Regions from separate parts of the Homo sapiens genome. Here region 2 is linked to region 1. A link means that fine-mapping ties the variant in region 1 to the expression of a gene that starts in the linked region. Tissue or cell type: whole blood. Region 1 holds a variant in brackets; the other region holds the start of a gene. All regions are shown on one strand. Distances are from middle to middle.

What was found. PIP is the estimated chance that this variant, and not a neighbour inherited with it, causes the effect.
Region 2: PPP1R13L starts here. The variant in region 1 is fine-mapped to the expression of PPP1R13L in whole blood (TOPMed, PIP above 0.99).

What each region holds. Positions count from the first base shown.
Region 1 is chr19:45,366,972-45,375,072 of GRCh38, reverse strand. It overlaps ERCC2 (ERCC excision repair 2, TFIIH core complex helicase subunit), which reads left to right and starts at 4,500. Exons shown (of 23, transcript NM_000400.4): 1 at 4,500-4,537; 2 at 4,841-4,940; 3 at 5,926-6,003; 4 at 6,081-6,143; 5 at 6,330-6,443. The coding sequence starts at 4,533. RefSeq lists enhancers at 4,207-4,286, 4,905-5,746. The variant A/C (reference allele first, on the strand shown) is at 4,343.
Region 2 is chr19:45,400,613-45,408,697 of GRCh38, reverse strand. It overlaps PPP1R13L (protein phosphatase 1 regulatory subunit 13 like), which reads left to right and starts at 3,629. Exons shown (of 13, transcript NM_006663.4): 1 at 3,629-3,699. It overlaps POLR1G (RNA polymerase I subunit G), which reads right to left and starts at 2,054. Exons shown (of 3, transcript NM_012099.3): 1 at 1,980-2,054; 2 at 1,463-1,604; 3 at 1-565. The coding sequence starts at 2,001. It overlaps ERCC1 (ERCC excision repair 1, endonuclease non-catalytic subunit), which reads left to right. Exons shown (of 10, transcript NM_001983.4): 10 at 1-1,364. RefSeq lists enhancers at 2,778-2,977, 2,948-3,743 and silencers at 5,903-5,992, 6,033-6,282.

The DNA.
Region 1 (8,101 bases):
CTTTCTCTCTCTCTCTCTGTCTCTTTCTCTCTTTCTCTCTTTCCTTCTTTCTTCCTTTCTGAGACGGAGTCTGTTGCCCAGGATGGAGAGCAATGGCGCGATCTTGGCTTACTGCAACCTCTACCTCCCAGGTTCAAGCCATTCTCCAGCCTCAGCCTCCCAAGTAGCTGGGACTACAGACATGTGTCACCACGCCCGGCTAATTTTTGTATTTTTAGTAGAGATGAGGTTTCACCATGTTGGCCAGGCTGGTCTCCAACTCCTGACCTCAAGTGATCCGCCCGCCTCGGCCTCACAAAGTGCTGGGATTATAGGCGTGAGCCATCACTCCTGCCATGGAGCTGACTTTTGTTTTTTTCGAGACAGAGTTTCACTCTTGTTGCCCAGGCTGGAGTGCAATGGCGCGATCTCGGCTCAGCGTTAACCTCTGCCTCCCAGGTTCAAGCGATTCTCCTGCTTCAGCCTTCTGAGTAGTTGGGATTACAGGCATGCGACACCACACCCAGCTAATTTTTGCATTTTTAATAGAGATGAGGTTTCACCGTGTTGGTCAGGCTGGTCTGGAACTCCTGACCTCACATGATCCACCTGTTCCAGCCTCCCAAAGTGCTGGGATTACAGGCGTGAGCCCCCGCGCCCAGCCAGGAGCTTTCTAAACAAAATAAATAAGTAAAATATTCAGCATGTCACATGGTTAAATGAGCTCTCAAGAACAATAAAGCAGGGAAAGGGGATATAGTGTGTGTGTGTGTGTGTGTGTGCGTGCGTGCGTGTGTGTGTGTGCGTGCGTGCGTGCGTGTGTGTGTGTGTCTAGGAGGTAGATTTAATTTGGTGGTCAGGAAGCCCTCATTGAGAAGGAGACTTTTTTTTTTTTGAGACAGAGTCTTGCTTTGTCACCCAGGCTGGAGTACAGTGGCATGATCTTGGCTCACTGCAGCCTCTGCCTCCCGGGTTCCAGCAATTCTCCTGCCTCAGCCTCCCGGGTAGCTAGGATTACTGGTATGTGCTACCATGCTTTGCCAATTTTTGTATTTTTAGTAGAGACGGGATTTCACCATCTTGGCCAGGCTGGTCTCGAACTCCTGATCTCAGGTGATCTGCCCACCTCAGCCTCCCAAAGTGGTAGGATTACAGGTGTGAGCCACCATGCCGGGCCGAGAAGTTGACAATTGAGCAAAGAGCTGAGGGAGGTGAGTGTGTCAGCCACATGGCTATCAGGGGAAACAGCATTCCAGGCAGACAAAATAGCTGGTGCAAAGGCCCTGAGATGGGATGTGCTTGTTATGTTTTAGAGACAGCAAGGAGACCAGCATAGCTGAAACAAAATGAGCTGGGGGAGAGAGAGGAGGAGATCAGAGCAGTAAGGTGGGTTGGTATGGGGATGATGAGCAGTAAGCTAGTTACAGAGGACTCTGTAGGTGACAGTAAAGATTTTGGATCTGGGCTGGATGCAGAGGCTCACGCTTGTAATCCCAGTACTTTGGGAGGCTGAGGGAACAGGATGGCTTGAGCCCAATACCAGCCTGGGCAACATAGCGAGACCCTGTCAATAACAAAATATATTTTCTTCCTGTAGGAGATAGAAAAGTAAACATAAAAAAATTTATGTAAATAAATTAAGCCGGGCACAGTGGCTCACGTCTGTAATCCCACCACTTTGGGAGGCTGAGGTGGGAGAATTGCTTGAGCTCAGGAGTTCAACCAGCCTGGACAACATAGTGAGATACCCTCGTCTCTACAAAAAATTAAAAAAAATTAACCAGGCGTGGTGTCGTGTACCCGCAGTCCCAGCTACTCAGGAGGCTGAGGTGGGAGGATCACTTGAGCCCTGGAGGTCAAGGTGGCAATGAGCCAAATTCACACCACCATACTCCAGGCTGGGACAGAGCAAGACTCTGTCTCCAAAAATACAGCCGGGAAGGGTGGCTCACACCTGTAATCCCAGCACTTTGGGAGGCTGAAGTGGGTGGATCTTTTGAGGTCAGGAGTTTGAGGCCAGCCTGGCCAACATAGTGAAACCCCGTTTCTACTAAAAGTATAAAAATTAGCTGGGCAGTAGTGGTGCGCACCTGTAATCCCAGCTACTAGGGAGGCTGAGGCCAGAGAATTGCTTGAGCCTGGGTGGCAGAGGTTGCGGTGCGCTGAGATTGTGCCACTGTACTCCAGTCTGGGCGAAAGAGTGAGACCTTGTCTCAAAAATAAATAAATTAAGAATTAATTAATTTAAAAAAGAGATTTCGATCTGCCCCTGCCTTCCCCTCCAGCTGCCCTTTCTCTGCTCCCTGTGCTCAACTCAGAGCTCCACCCCCACAGGCTTCCTTTCAGCACTCACAGGCCTCAGCTTTCTTCTGGCCTAGAGCTTTTGTGTATGATGGTCTCTCTCCCTGGAACACCTTTCTCACTTCTCTCATCCATCCCCTCTTGCTGGTTGATCTCTTCTAATTATTTTCTGGCTCTACTCAAACCTCGCTTCTTCCACGAAGCCTTCTCTGATCACTTGGCCAACACTCACACCCCACAGTTGACAGTAGACATCCTGTCATAATAAGTCTTTTTTTTTTTTCTTTTTCTGGGACGGAGTCTTGCTCTGTCACGCAGGCTGGAGTGCAGTGGCGTGATCTTGGCTCACTTCTGCCTCCTGGGTTCAAGCAATTCTCCTGCTTTAGCCTCCCGAGTAGATGGGATTACAGATGCATGCCACTATGCCTGGCTTTTTTTTTTTTTTTTTTTTTTTTAGTAGAGATAGGGTTTCACCATGTTGACCAGGCTGGTCTTGAACTCCTGACCTCGTGATCCATCTGCCTTGGCCTCCCAAAGTGCTGGGATTACAGGCATGAGCCACTGCACCCAGCCCATAATCAATCTTTATGGTGACTTGAAGTTTTCCTTCACAGCACTTTTGTACTTGTGATTATACACGTGCGCACACACACACACACACACACACACACACACATTTGAGATAGGTTTTCACTCCTGTTGCCCAGGCTGGAGTGCAGTGGCACAATCACTGCCCATTGCAACCTCTGCCTCCCAGGCCCAGGTGATTCTCCCACCTCAGCCTCCTGAGTATCTGGGACTACAGGTGCACGCCACCACGCCCAGCTAATTTTTGCATTTTTTGTAGAGACGGGTTTTCACCATGTTGCCCAGGCTGGTCTCTAGCTCCTGAGCTCAAGCAATGTACTCGCCTTGGCCTTCCAAAGTGTTGGAACCACAGGCACGAGCCACCACTCCAGGCTGTAATCATATATTCATTTGTATATTTAATATCTGTTCTTTGAGGCCAGGCCTGGTGCCTCACCCCTGTAATCCCAACAATTTGAAAGGCTGAGGGGAGAGGATCACTTGAACCTGCGAGTTTAACCAGCCTGGGCAACGTGGTGAGACCTCGTCTCTAAAAAAATTTAAAAAATAAAACTTAGCTGGGCTTGGTGGTGCACACCTGTGGTCCCAGCTACTCTGGAAGCTGAGGTGGGAGGATCGCTTGAGCCCAAGAGGTGGAGGCTGCAGTGAGCTGTGACTGTGCCACTGCACTCCAGCCTTGGCGACAGAGAAAGACCCTGTCTCAAGGAAAAAAATCTGTTCTTTGAGGGCAGGTGCTGAGGCTGTCATGGTCACCTTTCTGTTCCCAGGGGCCAGCACAGGATCAGACACATGGTAGATGCCACATAGCTATTTGTTGAAGAAACAAACAAAAGCTAGCATTTATGTTTTATTTATTAGTTATTATTATTAATATTTGAAATGGAGTTTCGCTTTTGTTGCCCAGGCTAGAGTGCGACGGCGCCATCTCTGCTCACTGCAACCTCTGCCTCCCAGGTTCAAGCAATTCTCCTGCTTCAGCCTCCCGAGTAGCTGGGATTACAAGCATTTGCCAGCACGCCCGGCTAATTTTGTATCTTTAGTAGAGACAGGTTTTCTCCATGTTGGTCAGGCTGGTCTTGAACTCCCGACCTCAGGTGATCCACCTGCCTCAGCCTCCCAAAGTGCTGGGATTACAGGCTTGAGCCACCGCGCCCGGCCTGCAAAGCCATTTCTAACTCTTGGGCCCAGAAAGGATCACCAATTTCCCTGTCATTCTCCGTTAGACTATTCGCTACTGAGACGATTTTTTTTTTTTTTTGAGACGAGGTGGAGGGGCGGGGGTTCTCGCTATCTTGCTCAAGCTGATCTCGAACTCCTGGGTTCGATCAATACTCAGACAATCTTGGCAGGCGCAGGAGGACCAAATTCTAGTGAATGAGATCGAGTCTCTCGGCTCTTTCCCTTCCATGTTTTCTTTTTGATTGGCCCTCGACGATCCTCAGTGACGCCTCCCGCACCGCCTCACCCGAGAGTC[A/C]GCCGCCCTCGCTTTTCCGTGCGCACGCGCAGTATCCCGATTGGCTCTGCCCTAGCGGATTGACGGGCAGGTTAGCCAATGGTCTCGTAATATAGGTGGAGCGAGCCCTCGAGGATGTCCACGACCCGGCCTCTCGCTGAATATTCATGAGGGAGGCGGGTCGACCCCGCTGCACAGTCCGGCCGGCGCCATGAAGTGAGAAGGGGGCTGGGGGTCGCGCTCGCTAGCGGGCGCGGGGGGTCTTGAAGATGGGGTCATCGGTGGGCGCGCCTGGGTCCCCAAGGGGGCGAGGGGAGGGTGAAGGGGTGGGACGGGGGCAGCCGCAGGGAGCAGCAGTGATAGCGAGGAGACACTGAGGGGGCCCCGAGGCTCCTGAGGACCTGAGGGTTACCGGGGGCGCCGGGCCCGTCACCCTTCTCTGGGCTCGACGACCGGGCACTGTGGAGGCGGGAGAGGGGCTGAGGGGACGGGAACTGACCCAGCAGCCCCTGCCGCCAGGCTCAACGTGGACGGGCTCCTGGTCTACTTCCCGTACGACTACATCTACCCCGAGCAGTTCTCCTACATGCGGGAGCTCAAACGCACGCTGGACGCCAAGGTGGGTGGCCGGTGGGCCCGACCCGCCCACTCGACCGGTGGGGCTGCCACGCCTGGGCCTAAGACAGATTGCAGGACGTCTGGATTTTAGAAGTCCGAGGTCCCTGGGAATCCAGGACCCCATAATCTTCCGTTATCTAAAACAATAATGGTGAATAGGCTGGGCGCGGTGGCTCGCGCCTGTAATCCCAGAGCTTTGGGAGGACGAGGCGGGCGGATCACTTGAGGTCAGGAGTTGGAGACCAGCCTGGCCAACACGGTGAAACCCCGTCTGTACTAAAAATACAAAAATTAGCCAGGTGTGGTGGCGGGCGCCTGTAATCCCACCTACTCGGGAGGCTGAGGCAGGAGGATCGCTTGAGGCCAGGAGTTGGAGGCTGCAGTGAGCCATGATTGTGCCACTGCATTCCAGCCTGGGCAATAGTGACACTTGTCTCTTAAAAAAGAAGGGAGAAAAGTTCACTATATATCAGCTACTGTGCCAAATATTTAACCTGCAATTTCTCACAATCCTCATAGTCATGTTATGAGGAAGGTTTTATTATTAGGCCCATTTTATTTTATTTATTTATTTTTGAGATTGAATTACAGGTGCGCGCCACCACATCTGGCTAATTTTTTGTATTTTTAGTAGAGACGGGGTTTCACCTTGTTGGCCCAGCTGGTCTTGAACTTCTGACCTCAGGTGGTTCACCTGCCTCAGCCTCCCAAAGTGCTGGGATTACAGGTGTGAGCCACCACGCCTGGCTTTAGGCTCATTTTAGAGATAGGGATACTGAGGTCTGGGGAGGTGAAGGTACTTGCCTAAGACCACTCAACAAGGAGGAGGCAGAAGTGAGGTTCAAACCCACTGCCCAATCTTAACTGCTGCTGTGTTATCCTGCTGTTCTGAGTTGGTGGCATTGGGGGTCGGGGAGAGTCCCCAGAGTTTGTGTGCCCAAGGTTCTGAGACCCTGTGTGTTGCCCCTCTGGTCCCCAACATGCAGGGTCATGGAGTCCTGGAGATGCCCTCAGGCACCGGGAAGACAGTATCCCTGTTGGCCCTGATCATGGCATACCAGAGAGTGAGTGATGCGCTGAACCCGTAAAGGCAGACAAAGGAAGGGGCGGGACAGGGACTGAGTCCGCTTGTTATCGGCAGGCATATCCGCTGGAGGTGACCAAACTCATCTACTGCTCAAGAACTGTGCCAGAGATTGAGAAGGTAAGCTGGGACTCATCCTGGTGCTCCAGCCCCACTGTTCCCTAGGCCCTATTGGTCCCCCTGGCGGTGGCCGTCACCAGCTTTCGGGGGTGTTTGGGAAGCTGGGGAAGAGACTGGGACCTGGCAGGGCAGGGGTTTGTGCCTCCAATGAGCACAAGCTCCCCCTGCCCCCCAACTTTGGAGTAGGTGATTGAAGAGCTTCGAAAGTTGCTCAACTTCTATGAGAAGCAGGAGGGCGAGAAGCTGCCGTTTCTGGGACTGGCTCTGAGCTCCCGCAAAAACTTGTGTATTCACCCTGAGGTGAGCACCTGTTCCTTCTCCTTGCCCTTAGCCCAGAGGTAGAGAAAACTCTTTCGTCCAACCACAAGTCCTGGATCCCCAGGCCATATCTCTTGCAAAGGCATGCAGTGGCTACACACAGAATTCCCGTCTCAGTGGTCAAATTCTCATTCATCGTGGCCCAGGCAAGCACACTTCCTCCAGGGAGTCTTCAAATTCTACCCAGGCCTAGGAGAGGTTAAAAAGGCAGCTCTTAGAGTCTCTGGCAAGCCTGGTTTCCTGGCTCTGAAACTTACTAGCCCAGTATTTATGGAGAGGCATTTTCTGCCACCTGGGCCTCAGTCTTCCTTTCTGTAAAATGGGGATAATTATGTACCTGCTTCATAAGGTTGCTGATGATAAAATTGGGTGAAATGTTGCAGCCGATGCCCTTAGCATGTACAAAGAGCTAAAAGAATGTTAGAAATTCTCATGATAGGCCAGGTGCAGTGGTTCACGCTTGTAGTCCCAGCACTTTGGGAGTCTGAGGTGGGCAGATCATTTGAGGTCAGGAGTTCGAGACCATCCTGGCCAACACGGCGAAACCCCATTTCTACTAAAAATACAAAAATTAGCCGGGGGTGGTGGTGTACACGTCGGTAATGCCAATCGCTTGTACCCAGGAGGCAGAGGTTGCAGTGAGCTGAGGTCATGCCACTGCATTCCAGCCTGGGTGACAGAGTGAGACTCTGTCTTAAAAAAAAAAAAAAAGAAATTGTCATGATATTTATATGCATAATGATATATGACAAATACAATATTAGTTATCATTAAATTATGCTATAAAATCATTGTACTTGGCTGGGCATGGTGACTCACGACTATAATCCCAGCACTTTGGGAGGCCGAGGCGGGTGGACACCTGAGGTCGGGAGTTTGAGACCAGCCTGGCCAATATGGAGAAACCCCGTCTCTACTGAAAAAAAATTGAAAAATTAGCTGGGCACATGCCTGTAATCCCAGCTACTTGGGAGGCTGAGACAGGAGAATTGCTCGAACTCCCGAGGGGGAGGTTGCAGTGAGCCGAGATCGCGCCACTGCACTCCAGCCTGGGCAACAAGAGTGAAACTCCGTCTCAAAAAAAAAAAAAAATTGTACTCACTGTGTGCCAGGCACTGTTCTGAATACTTTACATGTGGTAACCCACAGAATGTATATATGTGTATATATTATACTTACATATATATGTGTGTGTATATATGTTTTTATATGTGTGTGTGTGTGTGTGTGTGTGTGTGTGTGTATATATATATATATTTTTGTTTTGTTTTGTTTTTGAGACGGAGTCTCACTCTGTCACCCAGCCTGGAGTGCAGGGGAGTGATCTTGGCTTACTACAAGCTCCGCCTCCCGGGTTCAAGCAATTCTCCTGCCTCAGCCTCCTGAGTAGCTAGGATTACAGGTGCCCCACTACACCCGGCTAATTTGTGTGTTTTTAGTAGAGACGGTGTTTCACCATGTTGGTTAGGCTGGTCTCTAACTCCCGACCTTGTGATCCTCCCGCCTCAGCCTCCCAAAGTGCTGGGATTACAGGCATGAGCCATCGTGCCCAGCCTTATTTATTATTATTATTTTTGAAATGGAGTTTCACTCTTGTTGCCCAGGCTGGAGTGCAGTGGCGTGATCTCGGTTCACCACAA
Region 2 (8,085 bases), 34 kb before region 1:
TCCCAGAGGCTCCAGTGTCTCCACTGTGGGCTCTGTCCCCACAGGCCCTGCTGCCTCTGGTTCTTTCAGCTGCTGATTTTTTTTCTTCTTCTTCTTCCGCACATCCATTTCTGGCGACCCCAAAGCCATGTCCACCTCCAGGGCCCCGTGCCCATTCACTGCCTCCTGAGTGACTGGGGCCTCTGTCACCTGCATCTCCTTTTTCTTCTTCCCTGAGGTGAGCAGGTTGGGGGCCAAGGCTGACCTAGGCCCTGTGACTGGTGGGTTGCCCCCAAAGGCACAGAACCGAGGCCTCAGGCCAGGAGGGATCTGTGGTGGGGGACTTGCTGGGATGGGCTGCAGAGGGCTCCCTGACAGGGATTGCTGGGGACCCTCAAGGATCCTTAGGGTGCCCTGGGGGGCTGAGGCACAGGTGAGTCCACCTCCTGCCTCCGTTGAGGGGGCCAGCAGGGTCGCTTCTCCAGCTTGGGGACAGCTGCTGAGGACTCGATAGCGGTGCCGCTTGCCTGCCAATTTGCCCTTGACGATCTGGGAGCCAGAGAGAGGCACATGCCGCCCATTGAAGCTACAGAGAGAAACAGGGAGGGCAGAGGCTTAAGTGGAACAGGAGAGGGAAGGTTTTTTGATTTTTTTTTTGTTTTTTTTTGAGAGAGTCTTGCTCTGTTGCCTAGGCTGGAGTGCAGTGGCATGATCTCGGCTCACTGCAATGTCCACCTCCTGGGTTCAAGCGATTCTCCTGCCTCAGCCTCTCAAGTAGCTGGGATTACAGGCACCTGCCACCACGCCCAGCCAATTTTTGTATTTTTAGTAGAGACAATTTCACTATGTTGGCCAGGCTGGTCTTGAACTCCTGACCTCAAGTGATCTGCTCGCCTCGGCCTCCCAAAGGATGGGATTACAGGCACCAGCCACTGCGCCTGGCTGGCCTCTGGTTTTTAATAAAACATGACTAGAGTGACTCCATCTTAAAGTGAGTAGCTAGGCACTTACAAGGTTCATGCTTATGGCCTGAAAATAACCACATCCCAGGCTGACCACCAATTATAATTACAGAATATTTATGGCCATACAGAACATGTTCCACCAAGCCTGCAGAATGTCCAAATGTCCTAAGAATGCAGCCCCCATTACTTAAATATAACATAAATGAGCAAGCTTAGGTTGCAGGATTAATGGTCGTGGATAACACCAATAGCCCCTACCTTTAGTGAGCTTATCTGCACACTCCAAGTTTAACTATAGTTCCTTATAGTTTCTTATAAGTAGAAATACTAACAAAGGGCTGTGGGTTTCTCCCCCTGCTTTCTGAGGACACTCTACTCTGTAAAGGAGTAGTTTCCAATAAACTTGTTTCTTTCACTGTGCTCTGTGACTCACCTCTAATTCTTTCCTGTGACAAATTCAAGAACCCGCTCTTGGGGTCTGGACCGGGACCCTCTTTTCCGTCAACAAGACCACTCACCATTCTGGGGCAAAGTCTGCAGGGGCCTGAATAAGCCACAGCTCCGTATCTGGACCCGTCAGCGCCTCCAAGGAGAAACGAGGGGACTCTGAGGCTGGGGGCTTCGCGGTAAAGTTGGGGGGACAAGAGAACCGAGCAGCATCTGCAGCAGAAGGGGAAATGGGGTCGACTGACACCTCCTTGCCGGTCCAATCTTGCAGGGCGCGCCTATCGGTCCATTGGTCTTAACCTCGTGAGCACTCCAGTCCCCTCAACCTGGTTTCTCCTTTCTGCCCACCTGTTCCCCAGGGGCGACCTCAATTTCACCGATCCAACCCCTGGGGGCGCCTTGCTCTCCACGGGTAGCCCCCCACAAGATAACCCTCTCTCCGTTCGAATTCCCGTTCGCCCACTGGGAATGCACGCTCTTCGCAAGTCCTGCTTGCAGGTACGCCTCCTTTTCCGCCCGAACCCTCTCGGACGCCCCTTTCTCCTTCCACCAACGCACCCTCCGCACCCCGTCAACCCGCACCCTCACCGCCGGCCTGGGGCTCCTCCATCCTGGGACCCACACCTCAGGCAACCCTGTAGCCCGGGCTGCTCGCACCAGGTTGCAGACCACGTGGATCCAAAGGGGTAGGGCATCATCCGGGAGCGCCCAACTGGTGCGGGAGCGCGGGGGTAGGCATTGCTCGACTCCCGATCTGCAGGAAAAACTGGGGAAAATTTCAACGTGTGCAGAGCAGAAAACCGAGGAAGAAGTCTTTTTCCGAAAAATGTATTCCCGAAAGCCGCTGATTCGCTGTATTGCTGGAGTCAGAGGCCCGTCGGGTCCCGATGGGTCGCCCCCATCGTCTGTCCAATATGGTTTGTTGCAACGCCTCCTTAAAGGGGCAGCCACACTGCTCTTCCTAAGCCTTAAAGAGACAGGACGGTCGATTGGTCTGAAATTCTTGAAGAGACAGGTAAGAATACTAGTTAGTAGGGCTGTGCTTTCTGTGTTAAATGTCTTCTGGGGAGGCCCAGATGCCTCACAAGTTCAGAACTTGACTGGGAGAAGCGGGAAAATGGAGAAATAGGGGCAATCCGTCCGGAGGGCGTGAAGTTCCAGCCAGGGGCGGGGCTTCTGGACTCCGGGGGAGCGGGAAACATAGGGGGAGGAGCTTGTGGTTCTCGAGGGCGGAGCCTCGGACCCAGGAGCCCCACACGCGTGGAGTGGTGCTGGGCACGGTGTAGCGTTTGTGGATCAAATGGGACTTGTAGATGCCCTCGGGGGTTTAGTCTCATGCGTGGGAAACCTCGATGACTTTCAGGAAGGGACCTGATCGGCGACTCCTCCCTGCCCCAGGGAGCGTGTAAACAGCGGCACGTGGACACAGATTTGGGGGACGCACCCACTTCCCTTCCCACTGGGGCCGCCCCGCGTTGGGCGGCGGTTGGAGCCGCGAGACGGTGGCTAGACAGGGTGACCCGACTGCATTCCTGGCCAGTGTGTCAGCGCCACTTCCCGCCCCCTCTGCCAAGATTTAGGATCCTACTCCAGAATTGGGGCACCCCTTCTCCCCAGGTGGGAGAGGCTTTCCAGAGCGGAGGGAGGGTCAAGGGGAAGGGGAAATGTTTCCCCTATCCAGGATCTCCAGACGGTTTCCTTCGCGTGGGCGAGAGAGACACCGGGGTGCAGCCCCTGCGGGCTCCAGGACTACAATTCCCACAGGACCCGAGGCAAAGAGTCGCCCGAGGGCGGTCGCGGAGGCTGCTGGGGGTTGTAGTCCAAACTAAGATTTTGAACTCTTGCTGGGACATCCTTTGAAGATCCAACCCGCGCTTTTTATCGACGGGGAGATTCGGGCTCAGAGACCCTGGGGGATACTGATCAGGAAAGGGGATAGTGCGCCTGAAGGGGTGGGGCAAGGGCTCAGGAGTCAGTCTCCAGCCACAGCGAGGCAGGCGTCTCGGCTCTTCTGTATCTCCCTGGCCTGGTCGCTCTCGGCTTCTGGGCCTCGCCCTTCCTGTCTGTGAAATGGACTCTGGGTGAATCCAAATGGGATCGTCTTGGGCTACGTCCTGTCCCTCCGGGACTACAAGTCCCAAGGTGCTCGAGGCGACCTTGGCTCCCCCTCCCCACCGGGACCCGCCTCCCTCCAGCCCAAGTCACGTCGTCTAACCTGTTCCCAGCTCCTGCCCCGCCCCGTTCTCCGCTCCCCAAGCCGGAGCCCGAGCTGGAGGAAGCCCCCAGGTGCCAGGATCTGCCCGGATCCGTGAGTTTCACCCTCCTGGGGACCAGAGGCCCTGAAAAAGCCCAACACCCGCGTCCCTGGGAGGATTGGGAGGGGACTCGGACGCCAGGTCCCAGGGCGGAATTTGGGGCGCGCCGACACCTGGATCCTTAGAAGGAAACTCCGTTGCCTGTTTTACTGGAGGGAAGGAAAGCGGGTTCGGATGCCTGAATTCTTGGAATGGAGGGATTCTACCCCTTCATCCCGGGGAGACGTTGGAGCTGGAATTCCTGAGTCCCTCGAACTGGGGGGCTCTAGGAAGCCGAGTCTTTGGGTAGTATAGGGGTTCGAATCCCCGAGTCTTGGTCAGAAATGAGAGGCTCAGACTGGTGGGGCTCAAGGTGGAATGGGTGACCACCCTGCCAGCCTCAAGCTGCTGTCTCGACCGATCTTCTAGGTCTCTGAGCAGAATTAAGGGTGGGGCAGGGATAGTGGAGCCTGGGTTCCTGAAGTGGAGCAGGACAGGTACCCGGGGTCCCTCCGGAGGCTGTGTCCCGGCTCTCCCCCGACTTTTCGGCTCGGGGATGGGGGCGGGGTAGGAGAGAAAACACCGAGGCAGATCTCCAACCTCCTCTGTGCCGCTGAGCGAACCCAACATGTCATTAACCTGGGCGTCAGACCTGCCTAACCAGAGAAGGGACATCCGCCCTAGGGCACCCCCTGGCGGAGGTGGGCTCCCCTATTGCCTTATGGGGTGGGAAACAGCTGGGTTTGCAGAGGTAGTTCTAGAACCCAGGGCAGAATTCCGGAAAGCGGCTATTGGATTCTGGGAGGTTTGCATAGCCGGGCATTTAACCATTACACGGAGAGGAAGGGGTAAACTGAGGCTTGGAGCTCACACAGGCAGTAGAGTTTGTAGGGTCAGGATTCTGCCTCCTCCTTCTTCTGCAGCTCTCTGGGGGACGGGATTCCATCCGCCCCCGCCAGATTTTCTGACTAACCTTCTGCCTCAGGGCTCCTTGCCCTGACCCTGAGGTGAGAAATGTCACCTCCACGCCCATCTGTCTGACCTGGGGTATTGTGGGAGATAAGGGAGGGACAGAGGCTAATTCTGGAGGTGTCTGTCTGTCCTTGAGGCGGGGGGAGGGCAGGACCAGGCACCTCCCTCTGTCTATCTCCCCGTTCTCTCCACCCCCATGCGTCCTAAGAAGGGGGATTAAAAACAGAATGGGGGAGGCGAGCATCTGATGAGAGAGGAGTGTTTCCCAATGTCTGGGCTTGAAGGGCATTTGATGATAACCTGAAATGAAATTAAAAATAATAACCGTGGTTGCCAAAACAGGGCTCTGGGTGTACCAAGCTCAGAGCTGGTAGGTAGGTAGGTAGGAAAGCTCGCATTGTCTAGAGGAATCTTGGGTGACTGAGAGGTCTCCCTTTGAATAAGGTTTGCTGACCCCAGGGAAGGACTCCTCATTACGAGTGGAGAAACGGAGGCTGGAGAGTGGATATTGCCCACACCCTGGGCTTTTGCCAGCTTCTGTCTGGAATCTTCCAGGGCTCTCCCAGCCCTCCCGTCCCTAAGTGACTGAGGGTGATCACTGGCCAGACTCAGGAATGTACAGGGGAAATTTAGGACTCTGAGAGGCAAGGGCTCAGGAAGTTGAGACCCTGGGTGTCAAAACTCAGGGCTTGTATGATCTCAGAAAGAGTTGAAAGGGCCCTTTTAGGGGAAAAAAAAATTACATTGAGTCTGGACCCCTCACTCTGTTGCCAGACCCTGTGTTATTATAATGAACAGCCAAGGACATCTGGTAATTATGAATCCTGTATGTGTGAACTTTATTTCGCGCACTGCATTGTTCTAATCACGGCTTATAAATTATGTCACTCAATCCTCATACCCCTTTGAGGCGAAGGTATTAATTCTTCCCATGGTCCACATGAGGAAACAGGCACAGAGAAGCTAAATAACAAGCCCAAGTAGAGGCTTAGAGCAAGAAAGGCCCTAGCCCATTCCATAGACGTCCACAAAGGAGGAAACCGAGTCCCAGAGACAGTGGAGCCTCTCCAGATTCAGTGTGACCCGACAGGGCTGTAGGAGTCCAGCCTGGGTGTTCCCAGCTCAGTCTGGCTCTCTGACCCGGTTCCTACTGAAGATGACTCCTCCAGGAAGTCCACAGGATCCTTAGCCCTAAAGAACCTGGCTGGGGTGCAGAGGAGGCCAGGGAAGGAGAGCCAGGGGTGGAGCGGAGAGAGGAGCCCAGGGGAGAGTACCTGCGGCTGGCCCAGAGCCCGCGGGAGAGCTCGGAGCTAGAGCTAGAGGGGAGCACATGGGAGAGGACTCGGAGGCAGAGGTCAGGGGCAGAGGCCTGGGAACAGACACACGGCCCGCGCCACCCCCGCGCCCCGCCCTTGTACCCCGCCCGGCCCAGCTCCCTTGCCCCGGGATGTACAGCACCTGCCCGGGCCCGCTGCGCATTCCCCGGGCCTGAGCTCAGGCGCAGTCCGCCCTCCTGGCGGGGGTCCGGGCGTGACCGCCCCCTGGTGGCTCCGACGTCCCCACCGCCTGTCCCCGCGACAGCCCCACACCCAGGGTTGGCATTTCCTGAGAGCCAGAGAATGTCAGTATGGAATCTGAGAATCTTGGAAATTTGGGGATCATGGCGCCGTGGCTCACGCCTGTAATCCCAATACTTTGGGAGATCGAGCCGGGGAGGATCCCATGAGGCTAGGAGTTCGAGACCAGCCTAACCACAGGCGCGAGAGAGACTAAATCTCTACCAAAAGAAAAAAAAAGAGTCACTTACAGCTGGCATTAGGGCTGCACAGACTTGCTCATTTATCTATTTTAACAGTTAACAAAGTATTGTTTGTGTATCTCTGAAATTCTAAATGCCCGAGTTTTTATTCCTGTAGTCTCTTCTTCCTGAGGCCTCAATTCTCAGAGCTCTGAATTCTTCCTGCACCTTCTGACCAGGTGGATTCTTACAGTAGTCCTATGAGGTGAACTTTCATCCCCATTTTACGGATTACGAGACTGAGGTACTGTGGTCAGGGTTGGACGGTGGTGCTGCCAGATTTGATGATTTTATTTTAATTTTTTTTAAGAAATGGGGTCTCATTGTGTTGGCCATGTTGGTCTTGAACTCCTGGCCTCAAGTGATCCTCCCCCCTCGGCCTCCCAAAGTGCAAGGATTACAGGCAGAAGCTACCATGCCCGGCCCTCAGATTTGAATTTTTGAAGTCTGACTTCTTACTCATGCTTTTACCAGCTGCACTATACCATCCATCTAGACTTCCAGAGCAGTGCAACCCTGGGTTAGGTAGAATGTGGTACAGAAAGACTCAGAATTCTGGGTTAGACAAATTGGAGAATTCTAGAATGTTCCAAAGATAGAATCTTGGACTCAGAACTTTCCAACAATAGGCTCTTTAGCTGAGGGGTTTAGGCTCTGTAGAACTTTAGTTACAGTCCTAAGGTCCTTACAGTTTGAAAGTCTGGGGCTCATAGAGATTAAAGGGGCCTTTCAGAATAGCTGATTTGGCCAGGTGTGGTGGCTCATGCCTGTAATCTCAGCACTTTGGGAGGCTGAGGCGGGAGGATTGCTTGAGCCCAGGAGTTCAAAACCAGCCTGAGCAACAAAGTGAGACCCCTGTCTCTACAAATTTTTTTTTTTTTTTTTTTTGGGACGGAGTCTCGCTCTGTCTCCGAGGCTGGAGTGCAGTGGCGCGATCTCGGCTCACTGAAAGCTCCGCCTCCCTGGTTCACACCATTCTCCTGCCTCAGCCTCCCGAGTAGCTGGGACTACAGGCGCCCGCCACCACGCCCAGCTAATTTTTTTGTATTTTTTAGTAGAGACAGGGTTTCACCGTGTTAGCCAGGATGGTCTCGAGCTCCTGACCTCGTGATCCTCCCGCCTTAGCCTCCCAAAGTGTACAAAATGTTTTTAAAAAATTAGCTGGGTGGCCGGGCGCGGTGGCTCACGCCTGTAATCCCAGCACTTTGGGAGGCCGAGGCGGGCGGATCATGAGGTCAGGAGATCGAGACCATCCCGGCTAAAATGGTGAAACCCCGTCTCTACTAAAAATACAAAAAATTAGCCGGGCGTAGTGGCGGGCGCCTGTAGTCCCAGCTACTTGGGAGGCTGAGGCGGGAGAATGGCGTGAACCCGGGAGGCGGAGCTTGCAGTGAGCCGAGATCCCGCCACTGAACTCCAGCCTGGGCGACAGAGCAAGACTCCGTCTCAAAAAAAAAAAAAAAAAAAAAAAAAAAAAAAAAATTAGCTGGGTGTGGTGGTGCGAGGCTATACCTATAGTCTCAGCTACTCAGGAGGCTGAGGTGGGAGGACCACTTGAGCTGGGAGGTCAAGAGGCTGTAGTGAGTCACAATTGTAGCCTGGGTTACAGAGCGAGACCCTATCTCAAAAA